Linked DNA regions of Homo sapiens. The protein of the gene in region 1 interacts with the protein of each later gene in a pairwise test. Each region holds a gene or a part of one and is shown in the gene's direction. Other genes may lie near its edges. The genes, in order: HIGD1C, GAD2 and MTERF3.

What was found.
Region 2: the proteins of HIGD1C (region 1) and GAD2 interact in binary tests that used the Homo sapiens proteins (3 or more experiments, as listed by UniProt).
Region 3: the proteins of HIGD1C (region 1) and MTERF3 interact in a two-hybrid assay, tested with the Homo sapiens proteins (one large-scale study listed by BioGRID and IntAct).

The regions. Positions count from the first base shown.
Region 1 is NC_000012.12:50,966,015-50,969,663, forward strand, and holds part of HIGD1C (HIG1 domain family member 1C), read left to right. Parts: intron 1-3,649.
Region 2 is NC_000010.11:26,215,440-26,219,649, forward strand, and holds the start of GAD2 (glutamate decarboxylase 2), read left to right. Parts: upstream 1-1,334; 5' UTR 1,335-1,370; coding exon 1,371-1,446; intron 1,447-2,170; coding exon 2,171-2,230; intron 2,231-2,402; coding exon 2,403-2,552; intron 2,553-3,603; coding exon 3,604-3,837; intron 3,838-4,210. UniProt on the Homo sapiens protein: Catalyzes the production of GABA.
Region 3 is NC_000008.11:96,244,495-96,248,143, reverse strand, and holds part of MTERF3 (transcription termination factor 3, mitochondrial isoform 1 precursor), read left to right. Parts: intron 1-1,689; coding exon 1,690-1,837; intron 1,838-2,212; coding exon 2,213-2,284; intron 2,285-3,649.

The DNA.
Region 1 (3,649 bases):
GTTCTAGGGATACCATAATCAGTTAGCCAATGCCAAAGATCTCTGTGGCTTACTTAGACTATTCTGATGACCACTTAGGCTTTGCTGCCCATCACAACAATCATGCTTTCCTTGTCTTTGTCAATCAAATGCTACCACTTGACCCCCACAGCCTCAGGATCCCATCATCCCCATTGAATTTAGGGAGCCCAGCAGTTTGCACTGTCATTTCTGGCATACAGAGAACAGTCACCACAGGACTCTTGTCAGGGCTACCCTGACAAATGTCTTTCTCACAACCTTAGTTTAGGGAGTGGGTAAGCAGGATAAATTTACTCTAACATACCAATCTCCCTAATCCTTTGGATACCTACCTCTGTGGCAGTTTCTGAACCTCAGCACTACTGACATTTTGGGCTGGATTCTTCTTTGTTGTGGAGGATTGTCCCATGCATTGCAAGATGCCTAACAGCATCCCTGGTCTCCACCCAAGAGATGCCAGTAGAACTCCTTCCCACCTCCACACCCTCAGTTGTGACAACCAAAAACATCTCCAGACATTACCATATTTCCCTGGGGAACAAAACTGCCCCTGGTTGAGAACCATTACTCTACCAAGGAAGTTCTGGCATTTCAATTTCATTTAGTGGAGATTACCTTTTGGTCCAAGTTTCAGTCATTCTCAGACAGGATGGAAGGACTGCTTCTATTGGCAAAGGAGTCTCACTAAAATTTAAGTGTTCAAAGACCCATTTCATTTATGTCTGCCACATCTTCCCAATTTTCAGTGTCCCACTCCTTCTAAAGCAATGGTTTAACATAAGTGACTTTGTGAGGTTGGGGATTGAATTTGTATTGTGATGAGCCACTCACAGGATTCGGGAGGCCAAGGTGGGTAGATCATTTGAGGTCAGGAGTTCGAGAACAGCCTGGCCAACATGGTGAAACCCCCATCTCTGCTAAAAATCCAAAAATTAGCCAGGCATGGTGGCATGTGCCTGTAATCCCTGCTACTCGGGAGGCTGAGGTAGAATCACTTGAACCCAGGAGGCAGAGGTTGCAGTAGGCCAAGATCACACCACTGCACTTCAGCTTGGGTGATGGAGCAAGACTCAGTCTCAAAAAAAAAAAAAAGAAAGAGAAATAGGGTCTTGCTCTGTCACTCAGGCTGGAGTGCAGTGGTGCAATCATGGCTCACTGCAGCCTCAAACTCCTGGGCTCAAGATATCCTCCTGCCTCTTCTGGGCTTAAGAGATCCTCCTGCCTGCCTCATTCCCACAGAGCTGGGACTACAGGTATGCATCATCATGTCTGGCTAATTTTAAAATTTTTTCGTAGAGGTGGGATCTCCCTATGTTGCCCAGGCAAGTCTCAAATTCCTGGGCTCAAATGGTCCACTTGCCTCAGCCTCTCAAAGTGCTGGGATTACGGGCATGAGCTACCAGACCTGGCCTTTATTTTTTGTAGAAATGAGGGTCTCACTTCATTGCCCAAGCTGGTCTCGAACTCCTGACCTCAAGCGAACTCCCACCTCAGCTTCCCAAAGTGCTGGGATGACAGGTATAAGCCACCATGCCTGGCCTAATGGGTGATAATTTAAGAAACTATTTTGCTACTAAATGCCATGGACTGTTAGCATCCTCCTTATAACTGAAAACATGGCCATTAATGCCTTTAAATCTAAACGGATCAGAGAACCAATTCCGGATAACCCAGAACCATTTCAGAGAACCTATCATGCTGGTTCTGTTCCTCTGGAAGTACTTCTAATTCCAAACTGTATCAGTCAAGATTCAGACAAGCAAAACTACCAGTAGTGATATATAAAAAGTGATTTAGGCTGGGTGTATTGGGAGTCCAAGGCAGGAGAATCACTTGAGCCCAGGAGTTTGAGACCATTCTGGGCAACATGGCGAATACCCTATCTCTACAAAAAATTAAAAAGTTAGCCAGGCAAGCTGCATGCACCTGTGGTCCCAGCTACTCGGGAGGCTGAGATGAGAGGATGGCTTGAGCCCAGGAGGTCGAGGCTGCATGAGCCTTGCTCACGCCACTGCACTCCAGCCTTGGCCACAGAGCGAGGCATTGTCTCAAATAATAAGAAGAAGAAGGAGGAGGAGGAGGAGGAGGAGGAGAATGAGGAGGAGGAGGAGAAGGGATTTATTACAGAGATATGACCTTAAAACATTTTTGGAGTTGGCTAAACAGTTTATGCGAAGCTGTTGCTTATGTTTCTAATACTGGGGACTGAAGTCAGTAAGGCAGCAGTTGGGAAGGAAAGATAAACTGGAATCTGCAAGGATGAACTAGAACCCAAGAAGACAGATGAGAACTTGTCAGACTTACTGCCTCCCAACTTACCGTAATCTCCACTCCAGTTACACTGATTCTTTTTTTGTGTGTGTGTGGGGGGAGACAGGGTCTTGCTCTGTCATCCGGCTGGCGTGCAGTGGCGTGATCACGGTTCACAGCAACCTCAAACTCCTAGGCTCAAGTGATCCTCCCACCTCAGCTTCCCTAGCAGCTGGGACTACAGGCGTGTGCCACCATGCCCAGCTAATTTTTGTTTGTTTTGAGATGGAGTCTCACTCTGTTGCCCAGGCTGGAGTGCAATCTCAGCTCACTGCAACCTCCACCTCCCAGGTTCAAGTGATTCTCCTCACTTTGCCTCCTGAGTAGCTGGGATTACAGGCACCCGTCACCACACCTGGCTAATTTTTGTATTTTTAGTAGAGATGGGGTTTCGCCATGTTGGTCAGGCTGGTCTCAAACTCCTGACCTCAAGTGATCCACCCGCCTTGGCCTCCCAAAGTGCTGGGATTACAGGCATGAGCCACCACGCCTGACCCTAATTTTTTTATTTTTTTGTAGAAATGGGTCTCGCTATTTTGACTAGGCTGGTCTCTAACTCCTGGCCTCAAGTGATCCTCCTCCCTTGGCCTTCCAACGTGGTGGGATTACAGGCATGAGCCCCCACCACGCACCGCATTTATATTGTTTATAAATAAATGCACAGTTTAGCTGGGCACGGTGGCTCACGCCTATAATCCTAGCACTTTGGGAGGCAGAGGCGGGTGGATCACCTGAGGTCAGGAGTTCGAGACCAGCCTGGCCTACATGGTGAAACCCCATCTCTACTAAAAATACAAAATTAGCTGGGTGTGGTGGCGCACACCTATAGTCCCAGCTACTAGGGGGGCTGAGACAGGAGAATTGCTTGAATCTGGGAGGCGGAGGCTGCAGTGAGCCAAGATCACCCCACTGCACTCCAGCCTGGGCAAGACAGAGAGACCCCATCTCAAAAAAATAAAATAAGTAAATAAATAAATCCAGATTTTGAGAGGCATGCTCAACATATTTACTTAGATAAATCTGGAAAGTTTGGAGACCACCTACCTGTGCCATGTAGAAATCTCATACGTAAGGCCAGGCACAGTGGCTCATGCCTGTAATCCCAGCACTTTAGGAGGCCAAGGCAGGCAGACCACCTGAGGTCAGGAGTTCAAGACCGGCCTGGCCAACATGGCGAAACGCTGTCTGTACTAAAAATACAAAAATTAGCTGGGCATGGTGGTGGTGCCTGTAATCCCAGCTACTTGGGAGGCTGAGGCAGGAGAATCGCTTGAACCTGGGAAGCGGAGGTTGCAGTGAGCTGAGATCACGCCATTGT
Region 2 (4,210 bases), on another chromosome or scaffold:
TAGAAAAAGAGAAACCGCCTCCTAATACGCCTCAGAGAGAACCAATCTCGCGCTTCCGGGTCACCCGCTACCGCGAAGATTCTCTGGGGGCGAGGGGGGGCATTGGTTTGAAGCCCCTTAAAACGAGGGCCCTGCAGGCGATGCCTTCTTTCCTACTCGGATTTGTAAAGCCGAGATTGCTTAGTTGGAAACCCTGTTCTCCCCTCCCAGGCGCACACAGATCCCCCTTACACGCAAGCAGCGGGCGCTTCCACGCCTCCGCGGGCCAAGGTCACCAAATGCCCTGATTCCATCCCCCACCCGCCATCAATCCTGCCGACTCTGGCCGCTCTGCCTCATTCTCTTCCAAGAAGTTTCCATTCGTTTTATTTTTTTTTCCCCAGCCCGAGGTCCTCAGTAGACTCCAGCGTGGATTTTAATTGCCTCAATCAGCAGTCATTCTCCCCAGCCGTCACTCAGAGCCTGGACGGTGGGTCCCGCGATCTAGCCCTTGGCTACGCAGGAACGGTGCGCCCCCGGGTACGGCGCGGTTCAGCAGGCAGGCGTCAGGTTCTACCAAGGCGCTGAAATGAGCCCATCAGCGGGTAGGAGCCCTTCCCCCGCCGTCCCCTCCCCAGGCTCGTGAACGGCGCCTGATGCCCGCCCGGGGCGCGAGCTCTCGAGGTCGCAGTGACCTCAGCACCTGCTTGGAGGAAAACGGCGCGGGAACCCCGCTTCCTTCCCCTCAGCTGGAGCCAGACCTCAAACAAAACCCCAATCGATGCACACAGAAAACTCCTCTGGGCCACGCTTCCCGCCTCGCCGAGGTCTCCCCAGTCTGCCCCTCGCTGACGCTGGCGCGCAGCGGCTGTGGCAGCACCCGGGACAGCGGCCGCCCGCACTTCCCGCCTCTGGCTCGCCCGAGGACGCGCTGGCACGCCTCCCACCCCCTCACTCTGACTCCAGCTGGCGTGCATGGTCTGCCTCGCATCCTCACGACTCAGCTCCCTCCCTCTCTCGTGTTTTTTTCCTCCGCCGCCCCCTCATTCATCCCCACTGGGCTCCCTTTCCCTCAAATGCTCTGGGGCTCTCCGCGCTTTCCTGAGTCCGGGCTCCGAGGACCCTTAGGTAGTCCCGGTCTCTTTTAAAGCTCCCCGGCTTCCAAAGGGTTGCCACGTCCCTAAACCCTGTCTCCAGCTCGCATACACACACGCACAGACACGCACGTTTTCTGTTCCTGCGTGACACCCGCCCTCGCCGCTCGGCCCCGCCGGTCCCCGCGCGGTGCCCTCCTCCCGCCACACGGGCACGCACGCGCGCGCAGGGCCAAGCCCGAGGCAGCTCGCCCGCAGCTCGCACTCGCAGGCGACCTGCTCCAGTCTCCAAAGCCGATGGCATCTCCGGGCTCTGGCTTTTGGTCTTTCGGGTCGGAAGATGGCTCTGGGGATTCCGAGAATCCCGGCACAGGTAGGAAGGAGAACGGGGGCCTGCGGCGGGCGAGTTTTGCGGTGGTCTGGGGTTTGCGGAACTACGGAGAAGACGAAGGAGGTTTTTCCACCTGCAACAGGAAACTTCTTCGGGCGCTTCTCCCTGCTTTTGGGCTAAGTCCTTGACGGCCCAAGAGCTCAAGACCTCTACAGCCTCTTGTACCCTGGGAAGACGCCCAAATAGTCTCAGGCCCGTTCCACAGAAGGTTGGAAGAGCCCCCCAAAGACCGCGGTGTCTCGGGGACATGGAATTCCGTGGTCCTGGGGCGCTGCTAAGATCCGGGTGTCTGGACCCTGGGGTGGGACGGAGTGACCGTGAAGATAGAAAAAAAAAATGGGAAAGGTGAGAGATTTCTTTATCTAGAAAGACAGTCTGCGAAAAAATGGATAGCTTCAGTGTTTAGGAAAACTCGTCCAAGGTAGGCAGGGAGAGGAATTTGCCTGAGCCGATTGGCACCTGGAAGGGCAGCGGTGTGGGCTTCTCCTCGGGAAACAGATAAAGGAAATGAGGGCTGGCCCGGGCCGCCAGCCTCCCGCTTGCCTTCTGCACCTGCCGGCCTCACCGAGTCCTGAGCGGCCCCCAGGAGGAAGGCGGCCCCTCCTAGGACCCCGGACTGATTGATTTTCACATAGAACGAAATTTCACACGTCCGTCTGTTGTTCTCTTTCTGCCTCGCTGTCTGCCTGCCTATTCTTCCTTGCAGCGCGAGCCTGGTGCCAAGTGGCTCAGAAGTTCACGGGCGGCATCGGAAACAAACTGTGCGGTGAGTGCCCAGGGACCGGGGCGGCCAAGGTCGGCCCGCGGGGTCCAAGCAGTCTTCTCACCTCCGCATCCCAGTCAGCGGAGTCGGGGTTTCCTGGCTGCGGGTAGGCGGGAGCGAGGGAGCCGGGCCCGGCGGAGGATTGACGAGGCCCGCGTTCGGTGTCCTTACCCAGCCCTGCTCTACGGAGACGCCGAGAAGCCGGCGGAGAGCGGCGGGAGCCAACCCCCGCGGGCCGCCGCCCGGAAGGCCGCCTGCGCCTGCGACCAGAAGCCCTGCAGCTGCTCCAAAGTGGATGTCAACTACGCGTTTCTCCATGCAACAGGTAAAGACTCAGCGGGGAGCCCCGGGGCGCCCCTGCCCCTCTCTCTGCCCCGCCCACCGCGGCCGGTGCGGGTCCGGCGCTGAGAGCCGGACAGGGGCGTCGAGGTGGCAGCGGAGGCGGGACCTGCCAGAATCTTCAGATAAAAGCGAGAAATGCGGGACCTGCCCGCTGGGTCCAAGCCCCCGAACCTGGCCTCGGAGCTCCAAGAGGGCTCTGAGGCCGTGGCGCTCTTCCCCCAGCGCGGCCCTTGGGATGGCGGGTGGCCGACGATCCAGGCGCTCGTGCGCTCACTGAATCGATGACGGCTGGCTTCCCTAGGCCGCTGGGGCCTCGGGTGGGACTCAGTTTCCAAATACCGTGCCCGAGAATTCAGAATTGCATTTTTTTTAGGTCTTTAGATCACGAGAGTGATTTGTAGCTGCAATTGCACAAGAGAACGATTCCATTCACATGAAACCCGCGCGCCGAGTTTTACCCCCGTGCACTTACACACCGTCTCCCAAATGTACGCGCGCACACACACATGCAGACACACATGCATACGCTCTCTCTCTCTCTCTCACACACACACACACACACACACACACACACACACACTGACTTTAGAAACAGCGGGCCTTCCTATCAGACCAGAGATCCTAATGCACCTGTTCCACTTTGGTTTGCCCGAAGGCATTCGAGACAAACACTTCTGACGTGAAATATTTATGTAAACATGTAAGATGGTTTACTGAGAAACACGTTTAAGACGAACTCCTGTGAACTAGATAAACGGAGGTACACGCTCTTCAAAAAAAGAAGGCAAACAATATAAGTTATGAATTGAAATGCAGTAATTAATTTGGGGAAGAGAAGAAATCATAATTTATCTCATTCATTCCCTTCACCTTTGAAAAATGTCTCCCTTTTAAAGAAAAATGTTCTGCCTTTCCAAAAGCTTTATCTAACATGAAATCTCTCAATTCAAAGAAATGTTATTGCCTCATCAAGATCTTGCCTTGAATATTTTCAAAGTAAAATTAAAATGTGGCATTTTAATTTCATTCTTTAGACCTGCTGCCGGCGTGTGATGGAGAAAGGCCCACTTTGGCGTTTCTGCAAGATGTTATGAACATTTTACTTCAGTATGTGGTGAAAAGTTTCGATAGATCAACCAAAGTGATTGATTTCCATTATCCTAATGAGCTTCTCCAAGAATATAATTGGGAATTGGCAGACCAACCACAAAATTTGGAGGAAATTTTGATGCATTGCCAAACAACTCTAAAATATGCAATTAAAACAGGTATTGTCTCATCGAAAATAATAAAGCTCTTTTTTCGTTTACAATTTTTATTTTATTTTTTTCTATAAAATGTTTTGTTTGATGGAGTTACTGATATTTTCAAAATTGCAAAGTTATTTTCATCATGTAAAAAATAGTCATTATTAGAATGATTCTAATCCAAAGCACCTTCCACTGCTATTGTTCATGCTTCTGAAGTTGATAATGTCAGAAACATGATTTAAGTGTAAATCATCAGATTTTACGTTGCATGTATTTGGACACGGAGGTTATACCACTGGTATAGAAGCAAATATTCATCAGCAGAGACCAGCAGAAAGAACTCAAAGTGGAGAAAGAGAATATGGAAATAAAAGCTCGAAAAATGCGTGAT
Region 3 (3,649 bases), on another chromosome or scaffold:
TTGTTTTCCAGTTTATACTCTCCCCAACAGTGTACAGAAGTGCCAGCTTCCCTGTTATCCTTACAGATACAGTGCTATCACACTTTGCTTTCAGTTGATTGTATAGATAAAAAGAGTACTTTATTTGTTGGTTGGAGCATCAGATGTTGAAACATGGAATGTTGTTTGGAGCATCTTTTCATATGTTGAATTTCTGTTTACATTTCCTTTTCTGTAATATATCCTTTGCTATTTTTTAATCAGGCTTTTTTCTTTTTCGGTAAACGTTCTTTTATATATGAAGAAAATTAGTTCTGTCTCTGAGACATGTTGCAGATATTTTTCCTAGATTGTCACTTGTCTTTTGACTTCATTTATAGTGGGGTGTTTTTGTTTTGTTTTGTTTTGCCATGCATTTAAAATTTTTATATACTTAAACGTATAAATATTTTAACTATTTTTAAAGGAGTAATAGTCATGTGATTATAAAGTAATATAAGTTTTGGTATATAGTATAAAAATACCATAGGCTTTAGATGTAGGCATGCCTGAGTTCACATCTTAGTTTTGTCAGTAATTAGGTGATGATCTCAGACAAGTTATTTAACTTCCCTGAATCCATGTTTCCTCATGGAAAATTCACTTGGCTCACAAGTTTTTTTGTTTTTCTGGTTAGAATTAAACAAAATAATATCCTGATATATTTTAGACATTTAGTAAAACCATCTTTTACTATGTTTTAGATTTTTTAAAAATGTTATTTTATAGTCAAACTTTCTATATTTTACTAACTTACATAGTTTGATCTTCAGAAACTTAGCAGGAAAATCTCTCAGTTGACAAAATACATATTGAAAGACTGTAGTAAAAATCATTTATAAAAATACATGCTCAGGCCAGGCATGGTCACTCAAGTGTAATCCCAGCACTTTGGGAGGCTGAGGTGGGCGGATCACTTGAAGTCAGGAGTTCGAGACTAGCCTGGTCAACATGGTGAAACCCCGTCTCTACTAAAAATACAAAAATTAGCTGGGTCTAGTGGTGTGTGCCTGTAATCCCAGCTACTTGGGAGGCTGAGGCAGGAGAGTCACTTGAACCTGGGAGGCGGAGGTTGCATTGAGCCCAGATCATGCCACTGCACTCCAGCCTGGGCAACAGAGCGGGACTCTTCCTGAAAAGAAAAGAATAGAAGAGGGGAGGGGAGGGGCTCAGTAAATATACTAACCTAAAAAATGCCTCTCTCAGTTATAACCATTATTTCCTTAATTTTCTTAATTTGTGTTATTTTCTTAATTTGTGTTTTTCTGTTCTTATCAAAAAAAAAAAAATCTTAAGCAGAAGCTATTTCATTCTTTCTTACCAAGTAATAAACCAGATTAATTGAAAAGAGAATCTAAAGGTTGGTGCAAAAGTAATCATGTTTTTGCTATTGAAAGTAATGGCAAAAACCGCAACTAATACCTATTAGTGGATTTCAGAATTATTTTCTGTTTTTAAGTATAAGTGGAAACCATCTAGAGTTGGGTGAATGCTTGTTTTGTTTTAAACGTGTTTTTGCCATTGTTACAGAATGCTTTTATTTAGTTAGTAATTTAGGGTGTGGGAGCCTTTTTAAAAACAGCTGTTACTTTGGGAAGTAGCATGAGACTCCATCTCAAAAAAAAAGAATGTAAGTGTTTATCACATGCGTATGTATTTATGTTTCTCTAGGGTGGCTTATCTGCATTCAAAAAATTTCAGTAAAGCAGATGTTGCACAGATGGTCAGAAAAGCACCATTTTTGCTGAACTTTTCAGTGGAAAGACTGGATAACAGATTGGGATTTTTTCAGAAAGAACTTGAACTTAGTGTGAAGAAGGTAAAGAAAAGGAGAGAATTTGTTTATTTCCATGTCAGGTACATTTTAATAGCTGATAGATCTCATGTTCCCAGCAGATGCCTGGCCCATGTGAATCATATAAATTCCTGGTATTTTTTGTACAAAAATGAATTATCCTGCTAGTTTAAACATAGAGCTCCATCATTTTATAATACTTAATCAAACTGGTTCCTTCAGTTTTTGTTTTCTTTTTTTCCAAACAGTATTAATCTTATCTATTCCTGGGGTTCCTATCATTTTTCTGATTGGGTCATATTTTAAGTTTTAACTTTGTATCTTAATAATGCCTTAATTTTCCAAACTAGTTAAAGATGCACGTATAGTAATACTAGATTGTTTTGTTTGCAACCACAGACTAGAGATCTGGTAGTTCGTCTCCCAAGGCTGCTAACTGGAAGTCTGGAACCCGTGAAAGAAAATATGAAGGTAGGACAACTTTAGGCTTTTTGAGAAATCAGTTTCTTTAAGTGTTAAAATCCTCTGAAGAGAACAGATTTTGCTATTGTCATGTAAAAGAAAACTAGACTTTAAAATAAGTTATTTCTAAAAAGAGAAATAGGAAATTATCTTTAACAAATGTCTAGCAAGCAGTTTGTTTCAGTTAATATTTTCACGTTGAGCAGGTATTAACCTGAGTAAATCACCTTGCAGACATTGATACCCACAATCCTAAAGCATTAGATAGGGATATAAGTGGTACCCTGAAACTGCTTCTGTTGCCCAGTGTGGGCGTCTGACGTCTTTGTTACCTGGGCAGTGTTACCAGTCTACGAAAGTACTCCTGTTGGCCAGCATGACAGTCTGTGTATGTCTCAGGGAGTTTTGGAGGCTGGATCCAAAAGACTTCTGTGAAAAGAGTAGCAGCCAGCACATTGTTCTCCTTTGCACCTGTCCCAATTGCCAGCTCTCATTCTGTCACAGAATGTACCAGACACTCTTTACTGTCCTTCCTCCAAGAGAATAAGATAAAGCCAAGAGCAGCTGACTAGTTAGTATATAAAGCTGTAGTAGTATTTGAAATATTATATAAGGGCTGTTTTCTGAGGTGAACAGTTCAGTCATTGAAGAAATCTTTTTATTGAGCTCCTGCCCAAGCGCCATGCTGAGGAGACAGCTTCTCCTCCCAAGGAGCTTACAATCTAGTGGGGGATCAAATCCAGAGTGATGGGGGCAGTTACTTGGTGGGGGCACACAGGACACTATGAAAGCAAGTAGAGGACCCGGCCTGTGTTTGGTTGTTTAGTTCCTCATCTCTGCTTGGAATGTTGACATGTCGTTTTTCAGACAACACATATGTGGGTGTACTTGGGAGCAAAAGCTCAAAAAGCATTTTGAAGATCCTGCTGCTGAAGGATCTGTTTGGTGTTGGGCCCATGCCTCTGACCTGCAGCGCTCCCATGTCACTCATTCCCTCTTGTAATTATGGTTGCCCCTTTGGTGAGCTTCATGACCATCATGGTGTAGCTCTTTCTCAGCAGAGGGGTTTGAAATTCTGGTGACCCCAGGAGCCGGAAGCTGTAATTCCTTGAAGGCACTGGCATAGCTGTCTCCAAATTTTAAAATGTTATTTTAAGTTTAAAAGAATCATGGTCAGGCGTGGTGGCTCATGCCTGTAACCCTGGCATGGGAGGCCGAGGTGGGCAGATCACTTGAGGTCAGGAGTTTGAGACCAGCCTGGCCAACATGGTGAAACCTCATCTCTACTAAAAATACAAAAATTAGCCAGGCATGGTGGTGGGCACCTGTAATCCCAGCTACTTAGAAGGCTGAGGCAGGAGAATCACTTGAATC